4 linked regions of the Homo sapiens genome follow. The protein of the gene in region 1 purifies or fractionates together with the protein of each later gene. This does not show direct contact. Each region holds a gene or a part of one and is shown in the gene's direction. Other genes may lie near its edges.

What was found. The genes of interacting proteins can lie anywhere in the genome.
Region 2: the proteins of DDX3X (region 1) and HNRNPR fractionate together in Homo sapiens (co-fractionation; 2 studies listed by BioGRID). This does not show direct contact.
Region 3: the proteins of DDX3X (region 1) and EIF3J purify together in Homo sapiens (affinity purification with mass spectrometry; 2 studies listed by BioGRID, with this or other methods). This does not show direct contact.
Region 4: the proteins of DDX3X (region 1) and HNRNPM purify together in Homo sapiens (affinity purification with mass spectrometry; 2 studies listed by BioGRID, with this or other methods). This does not show direct contact.

The regions. Positions count from the first base shown.
Region 1 is NC_000023.11:41,340,302-41,344,161, forward strand, and holds part of DDX3X (ATP-dependent RNA helicase DDX3X), read left to right. Parts: intron 1-1,182; coding exon 1,183-1,315; intron 1,316-2,193; coding exon 2,194-2,352; intron 2,353-2,435; coding exon 2,436-2,535; intron 2,536-2,914; coding exon 2,915-3,050; intron 3,051-3,435; coding exon 3,436-3,521; intron 3,522-3,728; coding exon 3,729-3,827; intron 3,828-3,860. UniProt on the Homo sapiens protein: Multifunctional ATP-dependent RNA helicase. The ATPase activity can be stimulated by various ribo-and deoxynucleic acids indicative for a relaxed substrate specificity.
Region 2 is NC_000001.11:23,337,734-23,342,282, reverse strand, and holds part of HNRNPR (heterogeneous nuclear ribonucleoprotein R), read left to right. Parts: intron 1-1,262; coding exon of another isoform or gene 1,263-1,274; coding exon 1,275-1,431; intron 1,432-3,674; coding exon 3,675-3,793; intron 3,794-4,421; coding exon 4,422-4,529; intron 4,530-4,549. UniProt on the Homo sapiens protein: Component of ribonucleosomes, which are complexes of at least 20 other different heterogeneous nuclear ribonucleoproteins (hnRNP). hnRNP play an important role in processing of precursor mRNA in the nucleus.
Region 3 is NC_000015.10:44,549,649-44,554,197, forward strand, and holds part of EIF3J (eukaryotic translation initiation factor 3 subunit J), read left to right. Parts: intron 1-1,227; coding exon 1,228-1,282; intron 1,283-1,782; coding exon 1,783-1,874; intron 1,875-4,549. UniProt on the Homo sapiens protein: Component of the eukaryotic translation initiation factor 3 (eIF-3) complex, which is required for several steps in the initiation of protein synthesis.
Region 4 is NC_000019.10:8,460,977-8,465,525, forward strand, and holds part of HNRNPM (heterogeneous nuclear ribonucleoprotein M), read left to right. Parts: intron 1-1,552; coding exon 1,553-1,605; intron 1,606-2,520; coding exon 2,521-2,528; intron 2,529-2,616; coding exon 2,617-2,710; intron 2,711-4,347; coding exon 4,348-4,539; intron 4,540-4,549. UniProt on the Homo sapiens protein: Pre-mRNA binding protein in vivo, binds avidly to poly(G) and poly(U) RNA homopolymers in vitro. Involved in splicing.

The DNA.
Region 1 (3,860 bases):
CCTCGTGTATATGGCAGTATCATAGAGGTTTTAGAGCTGGTAGAGATCTGGCAATCTAACTTAACTCTTTCTTGCTAGCAAAGGCTGTTGGTCACCTGACTGGCCTAACGGTAGGAGGTAGAAGGCAGAAGGAAAGTAACTGAATTGAGAAGCTGTTTCTGTTTAATAAGGTGTTGCTGAAGCTAGTTAAACCCTCTACCTGTCTTTAAACCCTCTACCTGTCTTTGGGTTAATTTACATGTTTGTCATCCCCTTACCTGGATATTTATAGCTGTACCCAGGAACCTTGTCTATACTGAGAATATATAGTGATGAGGGTTTTTCTTTTTCCCAGGTATTCCTGATTGTCATCAAGCTTATAGTAGATGAACCACTAAAATAATACTACAATTTGACATTAGTGTTCTTGTACTTTATACTATTGAAACTGAAAAATACTGTATTAAACCAAGTAATCTGACAGTCTATGAATGTTCTAAATGAATACCACCTCCAAGAAACATGGAAACAATGGTAACTGTTTTTCCTAGTAAACTCATTCACACCTATAAAATGAATGGAAATTAAATTGTTATGGTCACACAACGTCATAATGCGTTACAGGCAAAGCTGTTGACCACTTAGAGGTAGTATTCATTGAGAAACATTCTTAGACTGTCAGATTGCTTGATTTAGTGTAAAGTAATTTTTTTTTTTTTGAGACAAGGGTGTTTCACTCTTGTTTCCCGTGCTGGAGTGCAGTGGCGCAATCTTGGCTCACTGCAACCTCAGCCTCCCGGGTTCAAGTGATTCTCCTGCCTCAGCCTCCTGAGTAGCTGGGATTACAGACGTGGGCCACCACGCCTGGCTAATATTGTATATGTAGTAGAGACGGGGTTTCTCCATGTTGGTCAGGCTAGTCTCGAACTCCTGACCTCAGGTGACCTGCCCGCCTTGGCCTCCCAAAGTGCTGGGATTACAGGCGTGAGCCACCATGCCTGGCCAGTGGACAGTATTTTCTAGTGGGGAGAATTAAAGAAAAACTTTGTCCGGGTGTAAACCAGCTTTAAATCTTGGTTCTCTTACAGTGCCATGGTAGGGATAGTCAGTGGAGGCTTTCAAATTCAGAAAGATTGATAATACCTTAACATGGTTCCTATTTCTAATTAATAATAAAATGTATTTGTGCTTTTTTAATCAAAGGTTTCTACGATAAAGACAGTTCAGGGTGGAGTTCTAGCAAAGATAAGGATGCGTATAGCAGTTTTGGATCTCGTAGTGATTCAAGAGGGAAGTCTAGCTTCTTCAGTGATCGTGGAAGTGGATCAAGGGGAAGGTAAGTGATTTCTTAATCACCTTACGTGTATGTATAATAACAGTTTAATAAGTCGTTATCCTGACCACCTGTTTGGATGTTAAGCATTATGTCTGTTTGGTCATTGTATTTTCTTAGCCGTAAGAGGCTTTTACTAAATTGAACCTGTTACTTAGAAATTAGATGAAAATAGGAATATGCTCATTGGCATAATGAAATGAGTTATTCTATTTCTCGAGTTTTATATGTTCTACTTAAAAGAGTAAGTTCATCTAGTGAATGGCCTAATTTGGTTGGGATTTTTGTGGACTCTATAACAATTTCTAAACACCTTGTATTTTTGATTACACAAGTGTGGTGAACTGACCCCACGTGCCTAATAGCTGTGGTTAGTCCTGTGTCCTGATTTTTCGCAAACAGGCCTAAAACTCTTAAAAACATCTTAGTTCAGGTAAGGATTATTTTCTACCTTTTATCCAAAGTCTGTCACACAGGTGAATTGTCCTTTAAGTGACATCCTAGTATAACTAGGACGATTGATATTTGGTGTGCTATTTTCTTGTTTTCCCTACCATTAAATATATTTGGATGAGCACTTTAAATGAAGGTTGTGAGCTGTGTGCCGATTTCAAATAAAATCCTTATTCTTAATTTTGGCATCTGTGAGGCCTTTTAGGCTATACAACTTTATAGAAATGTAAAGATTACTGATTTTAGAAAACGAGGTTATGTAAATGATGCTGGTTAGAGAGCCTTATTTGTCAAGTAACTCAGAATTGGATTGTTGACATCCTTATGGTTAGCCATAACTTAAGTCTCCAGATACAGTTCTAGAGTAGGGATAAGAATCTGATAATGGTTAAATGATATGATTCTGATTAATTGCTTGTGCTGTTCAGGTTTGATGATCGTGGACGGAGTGATTACGATGGCATTGGCAGCCGTGGTGACAGAAGTGGCTTTGGCAAATTTGAACGTGGTGGAAACAGTCGCTGGTGTGACAAATCAGATGAAGATGATTGGTCAAAACCACTCCCACCAAGTGAACGCTTGGAACAGTAAGTTTTTGAAGTGTATGTTACTTGTGATGAAGCCTTACTAGCTAGTATAACAAATGAACTTATCCATTTTTTGATTTGAGGGAACTCTTTTCTGGAGGCAACACTGGGATTAATTTTGAGAAATACGATGACATTCCAGTTGAGGCAACAGGCAACAACTGTCCTCCACATATTGAAAGTGTGAGTATTTTTGCTTGACTTTTTAAGACACAGAGAGGTTAAATGTTTTCATGTTACATTAGAATGTGAGATGGGCTTCATAAAGTCATGTAGACCAGAGGCTTCATAGATTTGTGGAAAAGGAGAAGTTGAGTTCAGTGTCACCATTATGAATAATTTATTACCTAAAATAGAAAATGGGTCAAACATAGGAACAACCCAAAGTCTTCTCCAATGTGCAGTAAGCCTGGGGGTTGGTTTTTCTCAAAGTATAATGTGATAATTTTACTTAAACTATAAACTGAGTTACCAATCAGCTGTTGGTTGGTTGTTTCCATTATTAGTATAAAACAGAAATAGCTCTAGATAGCATTCCTAACCCCATTGAATTTCTTAACAGTTCAGTGATGTTGAGATGGGAGAAATTATCATGGGAAACATTGAGCTTACTCGTTATACTCGCCCAACTCCAGTGCAAAAGCATGCTATTCCTATTATCAAAGAGAAAAGAGACTTGATGGCTTGTGCCCAAACAGGTAAGCTCAACTCATAAGAGTAAAACATCATATTTCTTCTGTAAAGGACTAGACAATAAAATATTTTATTTTTTATGGGTCATGCAGTTTTGCAGCTGCTCTGCGCTGCTATTGGACTGTGAAAGAAGCCATAGATGATACATAAATTATTGGTTACGGCTGTATTCCGTAAGAGCTTTATTTATAAAAATAACAGGCTTTATTTACAAAATAGTCTCAGTTTGCTGACTCCTCTTAGAGGTGGAGCAGAGAAGCCACTTTTTGGAAAACTTAAGCATAAACTAAAAGTACTAATTATTAGTAATAGGGTAGTTAAAAAACACTGTCATCTACCAATGTCTGTTTAAAAGTAATGAGCAGGATTTGTTTGTTTGTTTTTGAACAGGGTCTGGAAAAACTGCAGCATTTCTGTTGCCCATCTTGAGTCAGATTTATTCAGATGGTCCAGGCGAGGCTTTGAGGGCCATGAAGGTAGATGTTTCTTTATAAAATGGGAAATTGTAGAACTTTGTAGGTGGCCATTGAGAGGGCTTTCTAAATGATGCTAAGACTTAAGTAGAATGAAAACCAGTTTTCAAGTGTAATCTGTAATCTATAAATTACAAAAGGGAATTATGTTGTGATGAACTTTTCAAACAGGGTAGGTAGAGTTAACTTAAAAATTAACTTATTTCTTAGGAAAATGGAAGGTATGGGCGCCGCAAACAATACCCAATCTCCTTGGTATTAGCACCAACGAGAGAGTTGGCAGTACAGATCTACGAGGAAGCCAGAAAAGTAAGTATGAGTTCCAGTGATTATTAGCTTTTT
Region 2 (4,549 bases), on another chromosome or scaffold:
ATCAGTGGACTTTGAAATGAAAAGAAGTTGTTTTAAGCCAGAAAACTGCACCTGGTGCATTTGCACAATGTTCGATAAGCTGTCGGGAAGTGTGGTTATCTTATGTGTCTTAGTACTTTGTAGGAGACTTGTATTTTCTTTATAGATGACTAGGTATCTTGAGTTTCATCAAGAAAAGTAGGCTTTTTCTTGAGATCCACCTTTATGTCTTTTATTTAGTATGTGTTGCAATGTCTTGTTCTGCTGCCTATTATCTTCATCACATTGTAATTTCACCACAGACAAATGCACTTTAATTCCCTGTCTTTTGAGGCAGTACACAGACTGGCCTTGTATGGTTTATTGTTTACTCTCTCTCTTCAGGGAGTCAGTCCATTTCAGCATTACCTACAGGCTGAATGTACAAAATTATTTTTGATAGGTTAATCTGAGAAATCTGGCTGAAGTTTAGCCTAATTAGGTAACGGTTTTTGAAATATTTGGAAGAAGTTGTCCATTCTTCAGTATGTTTTTACATCTTTATTTTACTGATATGAAAATTTCAACATGTACTCTTTTTTTTTAAGAAGCAACCTAAACTATAGCTCACTTAGTATTTTATTTGGACTGAAAACAATTGTTTCGCTTTTAAACTTGGTCATTTTTTCTTTTAAATCTGTGGGAATAGCGAATTAATCTTAGAACAAAAATTAATGTCAAGTTGGTTTTTTTTTGTTTTCGTTTTGTATTGTTAGGTGGAGAAAACCCAAACCACCAGCATGTTGAACTAGAGAAAACAGGGCACTTATTTCACACCGATACTGTATTTGAAGCAGAGCCAGGAAAATTTGAAAGTCCTTAAATCTTGATTAAGTGGTCTGTGGGTGTTCATTCTGTTTTTAAAACAAAACTTTTTAAAACTGTGTAAGACCCGAGAGCTGAGGGGCTTTTTAGTAAAGGATTTTGTAGTGATTTTGATCTTTTCACCAGGACAGAACAGCTGCTTTTGTTAATCAGCAATTCTACCTTCAGTAAATTAAAGCCTTTATCTTACCCGGTGTACATGAAGTTCCTTAAAGATCTAATGCTTCCATGTACATTTTCTATGGTTTTACAGGATTATTATTGCCAATTTAGGTCAGATACATCACAGGAGGAATAAATTATTATTTTGATAGAGGTTATTAGCAGCATGTATACAAATTAGTTTAGATAAATCATGCATTGTCCTACAAACTAGTTATTTCTGGCTTAATGTAATATAGCTCCTGAATTTTTTCCAGCAGCATAATAAAATGGCTAATCAGGTGAATGGTAATGCGGTACAGTTAAAAGAAGAGGAAGAACCAATGGATACTTCCAGTGTAACTCACACAGAACACTACAAGACACTGATAGAGGCAGGCCTCCCACAGAAGGTGGCAGAAAGACTTGATGAAATATTTCAGACAGGTATAATATGCATTTCTTGTTTCTGACTGGTTATGAAAGTGAGGGCAAACCACTTTGAATTTTATAGTTTTTTAAGGTTAAATAATACTTATTGTTTCTGATCTGTAGAGCTGAATGTTTGTTACTTTCCCTTCATTGAAGGCATATTGGGTTTGACTTTGATACTCTTATTTCATTATTTTGAAGCCTTCTTAGTGTTGAATATGCAGTCTTAGTTGTTTCAGAACAGCACATCGATTTGTCTTAGATTTACCACCCATAAAAATGTATGTTTCTGCATACCAAATTTTACATTTTTTTCTTAATCAAAATCAGTCATCATTTTGCTTTTGCTTTTCTACTTTTACCTTCTTAAAGTGATTGTTAAATCAGCTTAGGTCTGATTAGGTGGCATAACAAGAGGATAGCTGTATCGTCTGAAACCATAATAAATGTCAGACTCCTTGAGAGTTTGTGGCTTGTCTAGTTTCTAATAGAAATCCACATCTCTCCGTAATTTGGAAGTGTTTGGTTGTAACAGCTGCTTCTTTTTTTTTTTTTTAATCCAGAAGTGCCATGGTTAAGTGCTTAAGCAAATTTGAACATCTTAATATAGTTGGTTGTAAGTGGTTTGAAGTTTTAAAGAGGGAGAGAAATATTTACCCTTAGGGAGCGTTGTTCATAAATGAATGTGTCCTCCTCCTTTGGGGACATAGATGGAAACTTTCTTCCTCTGTGTTGTGTGTGCCTATTCAGATTCTGAGAGAGAATTGAATTGTCTCACTCACAAATGTGTCTTAAGTACAGTAGTAGCAAATAGCTGTTTTTTTTTTTTTGTCCTTAAAAAATTTTTAAATCTGGGAAGCTTAGCATAATTTTAGACATTAAAATGACTTATAAAAATGACTCCTGGGTCATGGTCGCATTTGAAAATCAGTCCTCAGGAACTTTCTGTGACATTCTGCCATAGAGAATTGGCAGTGATCTGCTTAGAGATGCTCTCTTGTAGAGTGTTTTGTTATTGATAAGAGGCTGATGGTTTGGGCGTAGACTTGGTTTGACAAAATGGATTGATGGGTGTCCTGAGTTGTGGCTTCGGGTGGTGGTATGGAATATTCAAGTGAGGCAGCTCCAGTTATTTACACATGCTCATTTCGAGCTTTTGAAACAAATCATGGCAACTTTTTTAAAAAGTAACTTTGGAAGTGGCATTACATTTATTTAAAATTTACTATATGGAATAAAGTTCTTTTTAGCTTTATCAAAATGGAGTCACTTTTCATGTTCATATGAACTTGGGGGTTTTAATCTACGAAATACTTGCATTTTACGTTGGATCAATTCTGAAATATATTCCATATGTAAATATGACACAAACTTAACAGACTTAAGAAATTATATTTTAAACTTAGTAGATGTTCTGTGTGCAGTTGAATATACTTACATATATGAAATGCAGTGTATATATTTTCTGTCAAGTTTACTTGTAAGACCATAAAGTCTTTATTGCCATTTGAAAATGATTGTCGTTCTTGACAGTCAATGTGAATGCCACAGCATCTTTTAAATCTCAGCTTGTCACTTCAGAAGAACAAAGAATGCCTTAAAGTATGACTTTCAGAATTGATTAATCAAGCTGCACTTGCATTTGTAGAAGTTTAAAATTATGCCTTTCCACATTCTGACTGCAGCAAAGTGGATGCTCAGATAAACAAATGCATTTCAGTTTATCTTTGGTGTTCAGGAGGGAAAGCCTTTTGACACTTTTTGGAGAGTGGAAAGAATTACTTAGTAAAATTTGTTTTCAGATTTTCCTCCACCTCTTAGGTGGTTAGCATCAACTGTAACCGTCTGTAATTTGAAGGTTTATCCTTGGAAAACGCAATGTATTCTTATCACTCTAATATAAACCAAAATTTGTTGTATTAATGCATAATCTGTAATACAGTATGTACATCAGATTTAACTTTCAAGACTTATACCTTTGGGGGAGTGGGAAATGGATGTTAGGATTTGGCGGGGGAGGTTTGTGGATATGGAGATTGAAATTCATGTTTTTGGTTGTTGACATTTTATCTTTATTTTCATATTTGTCCTGGACCTTTCTATGTAGTATTTGGATAGCTGCGTATATGCATATAGTTAAATGAAAATACAGTTTGTTAGTGATCATATTGAATGTAACAATTCTTGATTAAACGTCAGTAGAGCTTAGATTACCCCTTTTGTTGCAATAACGTTACCCCTTTCAATTTAATTTTTAGGATTGGTAGCTTATGTCGATCTTGATGAAAGAGCAATTGATGCTCTCAGGGAATTTAATGAAGAAGGAGCTCTGTCTGTACTACAGCAGTTCAAGGAAAGTGACTTATCACATGTTCAGGTAAGGTCGTTACTCAGAAATGTCTTTGAACAATTAGTAATCTGAAATTATTTTACTATTACTTTTTTTCCTATGGAGAAGTGGTATTTTTTGTTTGTGACTACCTCTTCTTTTAAAAAATTAGTTTAAAGGAAAAAAACTGCTTGTGGCAGAGTTTCAGAAGCCCAAGTATAAAGCAAAAGTTTTCTCCCACCCCCTTGTGCAGTAAGTTATTTTAAAAACTTAAAATTAAAGCCAAGTTTTGATGGTTGTTACTATAGGTTTTTACATGTTACTCAGCTTTTTAACATTTGGGGGTTATTTGATCCTGTTTTATTATCTTGGAGGAAAATGTAGGTGGGAGGAATAGTTTCCGACATCTGGCAAAGACAGTCTAGATACAGTCACATATCAACAAGTGGAAGACTGTGTTTTCCCAGGGTAGAAGGTAAGCTCCCTGAGGTCTATACTGCCTTACTGCTGTCTGCTCCAATCTCTGGCACATAGTAACCACTCGGCAAATACTTGTTGAATGAATCAGTAAATCTTTTGTTAAAATCCTGGTTTTCTGAAATTTAAATTTAATTATGTATCTGACCCTTCAGATATTTTTGGTGATTCTTTTTATTGAATTACTTGTCTGTTCTAGAACAAAAGTGCATTTTTATGTGGAGTTATGAAGACCTACAGGCAGAGAGAGAAACAGGGGAGCAAGGTGCAAGAGTCCACAAAGGGACCTGATGAAGCGAAGATCAAGGTAAAACTTGACTTGGGTAG
Region 3 (4,549 bases), on another chromosome or scaffold:
CCCAGCTACTCGGGAGGCTGAGGCAGGAGAATCACTTGAACCTGGGAGGCAGAGGTTGCAGTGAGCTGAGATCGTCCCTGTATTCCAGCCTGGGCGACAGAACGAGACTCCGTCTCAAAAAAAAAAAAAAAAAAAAAAAAAACCATTTCTACTAAAAATAAATGAGCCAGGCATGGTGGTGTATGCCTGTAATCCTAGTTACTGGGGAGGCTGAGGCAGGAGAATCGCTTGAACCTAGGAGGTGGAGGTTGCAGTGAGCTGAGATCGTGACATTGCACTCCAGCCTGGGCAAGAAACTCCGTCTCAAAAAAAAAAAAAAAGTCTGGTAAATTTTATTGCATAAATTTGTTGGGATGCATAGCAATTCATGGGGAAACAATAGAGGCATTTCCATCAAGAAAGCAAGGATGCCCATTACTTCTGCTGCTGTTCAACATTGCACTAGAGGTTTAGCTGGCCCAATTAGGTAAATCACTTGTGAGGGCCTAAGGATTGGTAGAGAAGTAAAGCTATCTTTTGTTTGCAGATAAGGTAGCATACCTGTAAAACCCTAGAGAAGCAACGATAAATCTAACTTAAGTGATAAATGAATTCAGTAAGGTAGCAGGATATTAACATATAAAAAAGCCAATAGTCATTTTTGTTTATTTGTTTTGAGACAGGGTTTTTATGATAGTGAGTTGCCTAGGATAGAGTGCAGTGGCACTATCATAGCTCACTGCAGCCTTAACCTCCTGGGCTCAAGTGATCTTCCCACCTTAGCCTCTCAAGTAGCTGAGACTACAGGCACATGCCACGTTGCCCAGTTAATTTTTTAATTTTTTTTTTTTTTGCAGAGACTGGGTCTTGCCGATAGGTTTTTATACACAAATAATAGCCACCTAGAGGACATAATAGGAAAACACCCTATTTATAATAGCAACATACAAGATGAAATACTTAGGAATAAATCTAAAGAGAAATGCGCAGAGCCTCTAATAGGGAAATCACTTTAAAACACTTCTGAAAGGTACAAAAATGTACTTGATCAAATGGAAAGACAGTTCTTATTCTTGGTTAGGGCAGCTCAGCATTATAAGATGTCAATTCCCCCTACATTAATTTATAAATTTAATGCAGTACAAAAAAATACCAACAAACATTTCTCTGGAGTTAGTCAAGTTGATAATAAAGTTCACATAGAAAAGCAAACATGCAAGAATTATTAATGGAAGTCCTTTTCTTTAGGATAACTGGGATGACGATGATGATGAAAAAAAAGAGGAAGCAGAAGTAAAACCAGGTGAGCCACTGGGGCGCCTCCATTTTTGTTTTTATGTCTTGCTGAGCATTTGTGACTTGTATTAAGACAAATGACAGAACGCTCACAAAATGGAACATTTTGGTATTTAGAAACCAAGTGTCCTTCCATTCCCACTTTATTCTGTTTTCCCTGCAACTTTTCTCTATCGCCTCAAAATATAATCAGATTAGATACTTGCTGTATTTCTGTATGAGTGCTTGTTAGTAGGAAAGGGTAGAGGTTCTGGCATTAATTATAGTTGAATGATCTAAGCCCTGCCTATAGGACGGTGGGGAAATATGAAGAGATATTTGGATCTTAGGGGTCACATTAGAGAGGAGAAGGAAGAGTCCCAGAAGTTTCCCATTATTTGTGAGAAAAATCACTGTTTGAAGCTGGGAAAGGTTTGGTCTCTTAATAGTATACAAGTATCATGTCTGTCTCATCCATAAACTGGAAAATACTCAGTATAACTGAATAAAACTTTTTTTTACTTTTAGAGGTAAAAATTTCAGAAAAGAAAAAAATAGCAGAGAAGATAAAAGAGAAAGAACGGCAACAGAAGAAAAGGCAAGAAGAAATTAAAAAGAGGGTAAATTCTGTTTTCTAAAATACAGAATTCTCACATCGGTAGTGGTATAGTTTCTAACAGGCTGCAAATATTACCTAGGAATTTGAAGGGCTCTGTGAAGACTGTAAATGGATACCATAAGATAGGTAAAATCCAAAACAAATTGATTTGTGGTTTTTGCAAAAACAGAACCCAGTTTTATATATGAGTGTCTTTTAAGTTTTCACAAACATTCAGGAATAGTCATGATAGTGCAGTGACTACAGTCAGTGATTTTTGCCAGTGCCTGTAGTTCATTCTAGTCAGCAGTATTAGTTTTTGTTGTTGTTTTTTGTTTTTTTTTTTTGGAGACGGAGTCTTGCTCTGTCGCTAGGCTGGAGTACAGTGGCACAATCTCGGCTCAGTGCAACCTCTGCCTCCCGAATTCAAGCCATTCCCCTGCCTCAGCCTCCTGAGTAGCTGGGACTACAGGAGCCACGGCGAGCTAATTTTTTGTATTTTAGTAGAGATAGGGTTTCACCATGTTGGCCAGGATGGTCTCAATCTCCTGACCTCGTGATCCACCCGCCTCGGCCTCCCAAAGTCCTGGGATTACAGGTGTGAGCCACCGCGTCTGGCCAGGATTAGTTTTTATTTGCAGTGTATATATTGAACATAATATAAAAATTGTTCATTTCTGTGCCATGTGCTATATAAATGTATTTGTTTTTGATTTTTTGGCACAGGATCAGAAATATATGCTTGTTTTTTTTTGTTTTTGTTTTTAGACAGAGTCTCACTCCGTTACCTAGGCTGGAGTGCAGTGGTGTGATTTTGGCTCACTGCAGCCTCCACTTCCCAGGTTCAAGCAATTGTCATGCCTCAGCATCCCAGGTTGGAATTACAGGCACACGCAACCATGCCTGGCTAATCTTTGTATTTTTAGTAGAGATGGGGTTTCGCCATGTTGGCCGGGCTGGTCTCAAACTCCTGACCTCAAGTGATCTGCCTGCTTCGACCTCCCAAAGTGCTGGGATTACAAGCATGAGCCACCACGTCCAGCCTATTTTCTATTTCTTTTCTTTTCTTTTTTTTTTTTTAGAGATGGAGTTTCACTCTAGTCGCCCAGGCGGGAGTGCAATGGCGTGATCTTGGCTCACTGCAACCTTCTCCCGGGTTCAAGTGATTCTCCTGCCTCAGTCTTCGAGTAGCTGGGACTGCAGGCATGTGCTACCATGCCCAGCTAATTTTGTATTATCAGTAGAGATGGCATTTCACCGTGTTGGCCAGGTTGGTCTCAAACTCCTGACCTCAGGTGATCCACCCGCCTTGGCCTCCCAGAGTGCTAGGATTATAGGCGTGAACCACTGTGCCTGGCCTATTTTCTATTTCAGAACACATTTACATGGTTCAAAAATTAAAACAGCCTGCGTGGTGGCTCATGCCTGTAATTGCAACGCTTTGGGAGGCTGAGGTGGGAGTATTGCTTGAGTCCATGGATTTGAGACCAGCCTGGACAACATAGGGAGACCCCGTCTCTACAAAAAATAGAAAAATAAGCTGGGCGTGGTGGTACATGCCTGTAGTATCAGCTGCTTGGGAGGCTAAGGTAGGAGAATCACTTGAGCCCAGGAAGTTGAGGCTGCAGTGAGCCATGACTGCGCCACTACACTCCAGCCTAGGTGACAGAGCAAGATCCTGCCTCAAAACAAAAAAAAAAAGAAGAAAACGGCCAGGCGTGGTGGCTCACGCCTGTAATCCTGGCACTTTGGGAGGCCGAGGCAGGCAGATCACAAGGTCAGGAGATCGAGACCATCCTGGCTAACACGGTGAAACCCCGTCTCTACTAAAAAATAGAAAAATTAGACGGGCGTGGTGGCGGGCGCCTGTAGTCCCAGCTACCTGGGAGGCTGAGGCAGGAGAATGGTGTGAACTCAGGAGGCGGAGCTTGCAGTGAGCGGAGATCGCACCACTGCACTCCAGCCCGGGCGACAGAGCGAGACTCCATCTCAAAAAAAAAAAAGAAAAAATAATTATATTCCAGTATAAAGAGAAGATAGATATACACTAAGCTGTCAACTGTCATGTCAGAGAAGTGGGTTTGGGAAACAAATGACATCTACTATTATATCTTTAAAATTTGTTATAGTGGTAATTTTATAATTATACAATATGATGAAAAGGGGAAATGTTTTGAACCATTCTGTTGGACATTTAGGTTGTCTGTAAATTTATTTGAAATTATGAATAATACTCTAATGTACATTCTTGGGCTTACATATTTGTGTGCATCTTATTTCTTAAGGTAAATACCTGGAAGTAGAATACTTGATTAAAGCATGTAAAAATATTATTTAAGACTTGATCCATATTACCAAGTTGCCCTAGAAAGGGTTTTCCAATATAGTTTTAGTAGCAGTGTATGAAAGTAATATTTTTACCTTGTCCACAGTCTCAATTCCTTTTTTTAAAAAAGGTTATAGAAGTAACCCCAGTCTTCCTGGGTACAAATCTGTCACGTTACCAGCTGTTACCTTCTATTTAGTTGTGGGCAGGTTGTTTCTTTGTGCCTCCATTGCTTATCTTTAAAATTGGGTTAAGGATACCTAAAGTGGACTGGGCGCAGTGGCTCACACCTGTAATCCCAACACTTTGGGAGGCTGAGATGGGCGGATCACTTGAGGCCAGGAGTTCAAGACCGGCCTGGCCAACATGGT
Region 4 (4,549 bases), on another chromosome or scaffold:
AAATAAAGCCGCTTTGTACAACTGTCCCTTGGCTGTGATCATTTTTCAGTTTGCCCCACAGGAGTACATACTCTAAAAGTAAATTGTACTGATCCCTCATATTTCCGTTCTTCATTTCTTTGCACTGATGATTCTCCTGTTTTGTACAAAGTGTCAGTTTCGTTCTGAAACATTTCAGGAGAGGACAAAGAGGGTGAGGCTCTAGATGTAAACTTTGGACACTTGGCTTTCTTGCCTTCAACCAATGTGCAGAGCCATTAATAAATATGTCCTTCAGATCTTTAAATTTTTTGTAAAATAATTTTACCTTGTTTTTCATTAAAAATTTTTCTTCCTATAGCCTCATAATTTTAATGTCCTTTAAACAAAAGAGTTGGAATAGGCATGACTTGTTGAGGCCGTTAAGCGGGTTATTTTTACCCTTGTACTGCTAAACCAAACCGATCCAGAGGACAACAAAAGCCCATTTTTTGCCTTTGGAGAGTCTGGTTAGAGATAGTTTTCTCCAGGGTAACACTTTACATTTGTTTTCTGTGTGCCATCTTCAAGTTCAGCAGCCATTTTGGTGGTTGTCTTGATGGATTCTAACATCTGGTCATGGTGGTCATGAATTGGCAATCCAAACCTTGAGGAAAATCTGCAGAAACTTTTGAAATGCTTTGGTTTTTTCCCTTTTGTGTAGATTAGAATCATATGAGTCTGTTTAACTGTTTAGATACAAAATCTGAGCCCTAAATTTGAATTTATTTGTGTCCTTTAAATGGGGAGGTTTAGAAAGCGGCAAGAATGAAGCCTGGCCTAATTCACTGAAGAGAATCCAGATGCTGCTCTGGTTTTGTGATCTTATTATATTCAAACATTCTGCCTCTACAGATGTGGAGCCTAGTGCTGTGTGCAGGACCAGCTATAGAATTTGTGGGGCCCAACACAAAACGAAAACAAGGGGCCTCTTGTTAAAAAAAAAAACTAAGAATGTCATGGCAGCGATAACAGCATTAAACCAAGCTCAGGGCCCCTGAGTGCGGGGCTCTGTACAATTGCACGAGTTGCTCACCTGTGAAGCTGGCCCTGCGGCCGTGTGTGCCTGTGAGCTTATACCTTCGCATACGTGCGTCCTTGTATTTATAGCATGTGAGCTCAGCCCGATGGCATCGCAATTTGTATGCATTTCACCTGCTTGCCACCAATGAGAGCGTATGTGTAAAACCTCCTCCCTTCCCCAGAAAAGTAAATCACGCAGACTTCTTTCCTATAGATTTGGATTGCCTCTAGTCATGAATGAGTCTTCCAGACAGGGAAATTGATACGGAAATCTGTGGAATAGCTTGTTTGTGGTGGGAGGAAAATCAAGGACATATTGTTAACGTGTTTTCACCTACTTTTACTGCACACCTGTAATGCCTAGTTCGGTGGTTTAGAGAATATGGAGTGTTTCTGGGCTTTCTTATAAGGCAGAGGCTCCATACAAGGTTGCTGATGATTGTTCTAAATTCCCATTGTTTTCTTGGCTTTTCTCCCTTGGTTTATGTGTCGTCTGGAAACTGATTTGTAGTTGGTGAGGTAACATACGTGGAGCTCTTAATGGACGCTGAAGGAAAGTCAAGGGTAAGTGTCTGAGAGAATTTCTTCTGTGGATTTACTACATGAAAAATGTAACTGTATGGTGGCGTGGAATCGAATGAAATCAGGAAGGCAGTGAGTGCTCATGTTACAGTAGCTATGTTTGATTTTGCCAAACATTTGAGTGGGGTGGGAGGGGATTTGCAAATGGGAGTCCCGCTTTTCCAAATGGCTGGCCAAAGAGCTTTTTGGTATTCTGTTTGGATGCCCAATTTGGATAACTGGGGACCAATAGCAGCATTGTCTCTTTGTTAACAGAGGAATTGGCTGTGTGTGAATTATGCATGGAATTTTAGCGGTGGTATAATTAATGTAAAACGTGTGTTCTTGTCTAGAAAATGTTACTCTTGGTTGTTTGCTGAATTTGAAAGTTGTGTGAACCAAAGATTCCGAAAAGTTGCCTTTGTGCCAGTAAATTGTAAACCAAATATTAAAAACCTGAATGTTCAAAATTGGCCTAGTTTAAAGAGAACATAAACTATTTTCTGTCGTGCAATAGAATGGCTTAGAATAATCAAAAGGATGAGCTTAACTTACGGAAGGGATGGATTTAGGAGGAATATGGTAAGGACTCGATTGAGTACAGAGGGAAGCAGATCTAAAGTTGGTGTGATTTCTTGGAGACCCTGAATTTAGGTCTGCTTATTAAATGTCAGCAGCTCTAGTGCAATGCTGGTAACGCGTAGGAGAAGGAGATATTAAGGAGCCCAGCTTTTAACAAGGAAGGCGAGGCGAGGCACTTCTGTCAGCTTCCCCTTAGAAGGGTTCATTTTAAAAGACTAACTTTGTGACATAAATCATATTTTTAGTTTGTTTATAACTGTCATTGATATTTACTATTTTTTTCTTTTCTTTTTCCCCTTCCTTGCTCTTCTGACTGGTCTCTGGCTTCCTCCAAAGGGATGTGCGTAAGTATCGTCTAGTTACTTATTGGTATTTGAGCCTTCTAACTTGTAGGACTGGTTTCACTCGACTCGTTTCCTTTTGACTCTATAGTGTTGTTGAATTCAAGATGGAAGAGAGCATGAAAAAAGCTGCGGAAGTCCTAAACAAGCATAGTCTGAGCGGAAGACCACTGAAAGTCAAAGAAGTAAGCTCTTGCTTAACACTGCGGATACTGTGTGTAATTGTTGAGTGATCCTACTTTGGAATTAGGGAAAGACGGTCATGGTCCCAGACGGCATTTACAAAGCAAGTGCCAGCCTGTTGTTTCTAATGAAGAGTGTCGGTCATAGCCTACAGCAGCCATTCCCTGCAAGGACTTTGGGGTGGTGGCCAAGCAGATCCTGAGTGGCTGCTGACCACCTTCTAATATCTGTGATTTGTCTGAGGCCTTGTTGTCTCAGGGACTCTCAAACCATGAGCCCGTGGGTTTGTGCCATTAAGTTTTACTCCATCTGACCCTTCTTCTTGGCCCATCTTTTTTCTTTTTTTAAAAAGTGAGTTTGTTCCAGCCTGGGCAACATGGTGAAACCCCCTCTCTACAAAAGGTACAAAAATTAGCCAGGCATGGTGGCGCATGCCTGTAGTCCTAGCTACTTGGGAGGCTGAGGCAGGAGGATCATTTGAGCCCAGGATGTGGAGGTTGCAGTGAGCTGAGATTGCACCATTGCACTCCAGCCCGGGCAACAGTGAGACCCTGTCTAAAAAATAAAAAAATAAAGTGAGTTTGTTATTCCTCAAACCTGCTTTCACATCTCATCTGAATCAAATATATTCCTTGAGGAAGAAGGTTTTTTTGTTGATTAAATCCCTCTTGGCTGGGCGCAGTGGCTCACGCCTGTAATCCCCAGCACTTTGGGAGGCTGAGGTGGGTGGATCAAGGTCATGAGTTCAAGACCAGCTTGACCAACATGGTGAAACCCTGTCTACTAAAAATACAAAAAATTAGCTGGGCGTAGTGGGGGGTGCCTGTAATCCATCTACTCGGGAGGCTGAGGCAGGAGAATCGCTGGAACCCAGGAGGCGGAGGTTGCAGTGAGCCGAGATCGCGCCATTGAACTCCAGCCTGGGCAGTAAGAGCAAAGCTCTGTCTCAAAAAAACATCCCTCTTAACTTCTTTTCACCTCTTCTCTTGGGGAGGAAGATGAGTAGATTCAGAGTGAAGCTTGGTAGGGTCTAAGGTCTCTCATGTGTTATGATGTCTTTTTTAGTGCTGATGGTGGTAATTGACAGGACAGAGAGTTGAAGAAGAGAGTCAGTACAGAGCTTCACAGACCTTCCCAGATGTTGTTTTACTGCGCAGCCCTCACACACACGCCTCCAACACCTGAAGGACTTGAAGGATGGGGGCGCTTGTGTGGTCTAGAACTGTTTCTCAAACTTCTGGAAGCCATTGACGGGGTTTGCAGAAGTTACAAAACCCCATTGATGAATTAGTAAGATTCAGCTATACCAAGCCCATGAAGCTCTAATTTCAGTCTGGCGGTTCTACATTATATCAGCTAATCATGTTTCCCTCCCTACCCTGCTTTTCTTTTTTACTTAGTGCAATTGAGAGCTGTGTTTTTAGTGCTACACTTCATGCCTTTTCTTCCTTTCCTATTTCTTTAGCTGGACTCTTCTAAGCTGGTAGTTGAGTTCATTTGACTTTCTTGTTAATAGATTTGAGAGATGCTTTCCAAACAACCTTTCAGTTTCTAAGTCTTGAGAATATCATTTACTGTGCAAGCATGGTTTGCGTTGTACTGGGTCAGTTAAACGTAACACCTTTTGTGCTTGTTTTAGGATCCTGATGGTGAACATGCCAGGAGAGCAATGCAAAAGGTGATGGCTACGACTGGTGGGATGGGTATGGGACCAGGTGGCCCAGGAATGATTACTATCCCACCCAGTATCCTAAATAATCCCAACATCCCAAATGAGATTATCCATGCATTACAGGCTGGAAGACTTGGAAGCACAGTATTTGTAGCAAATGTAAGTAAAC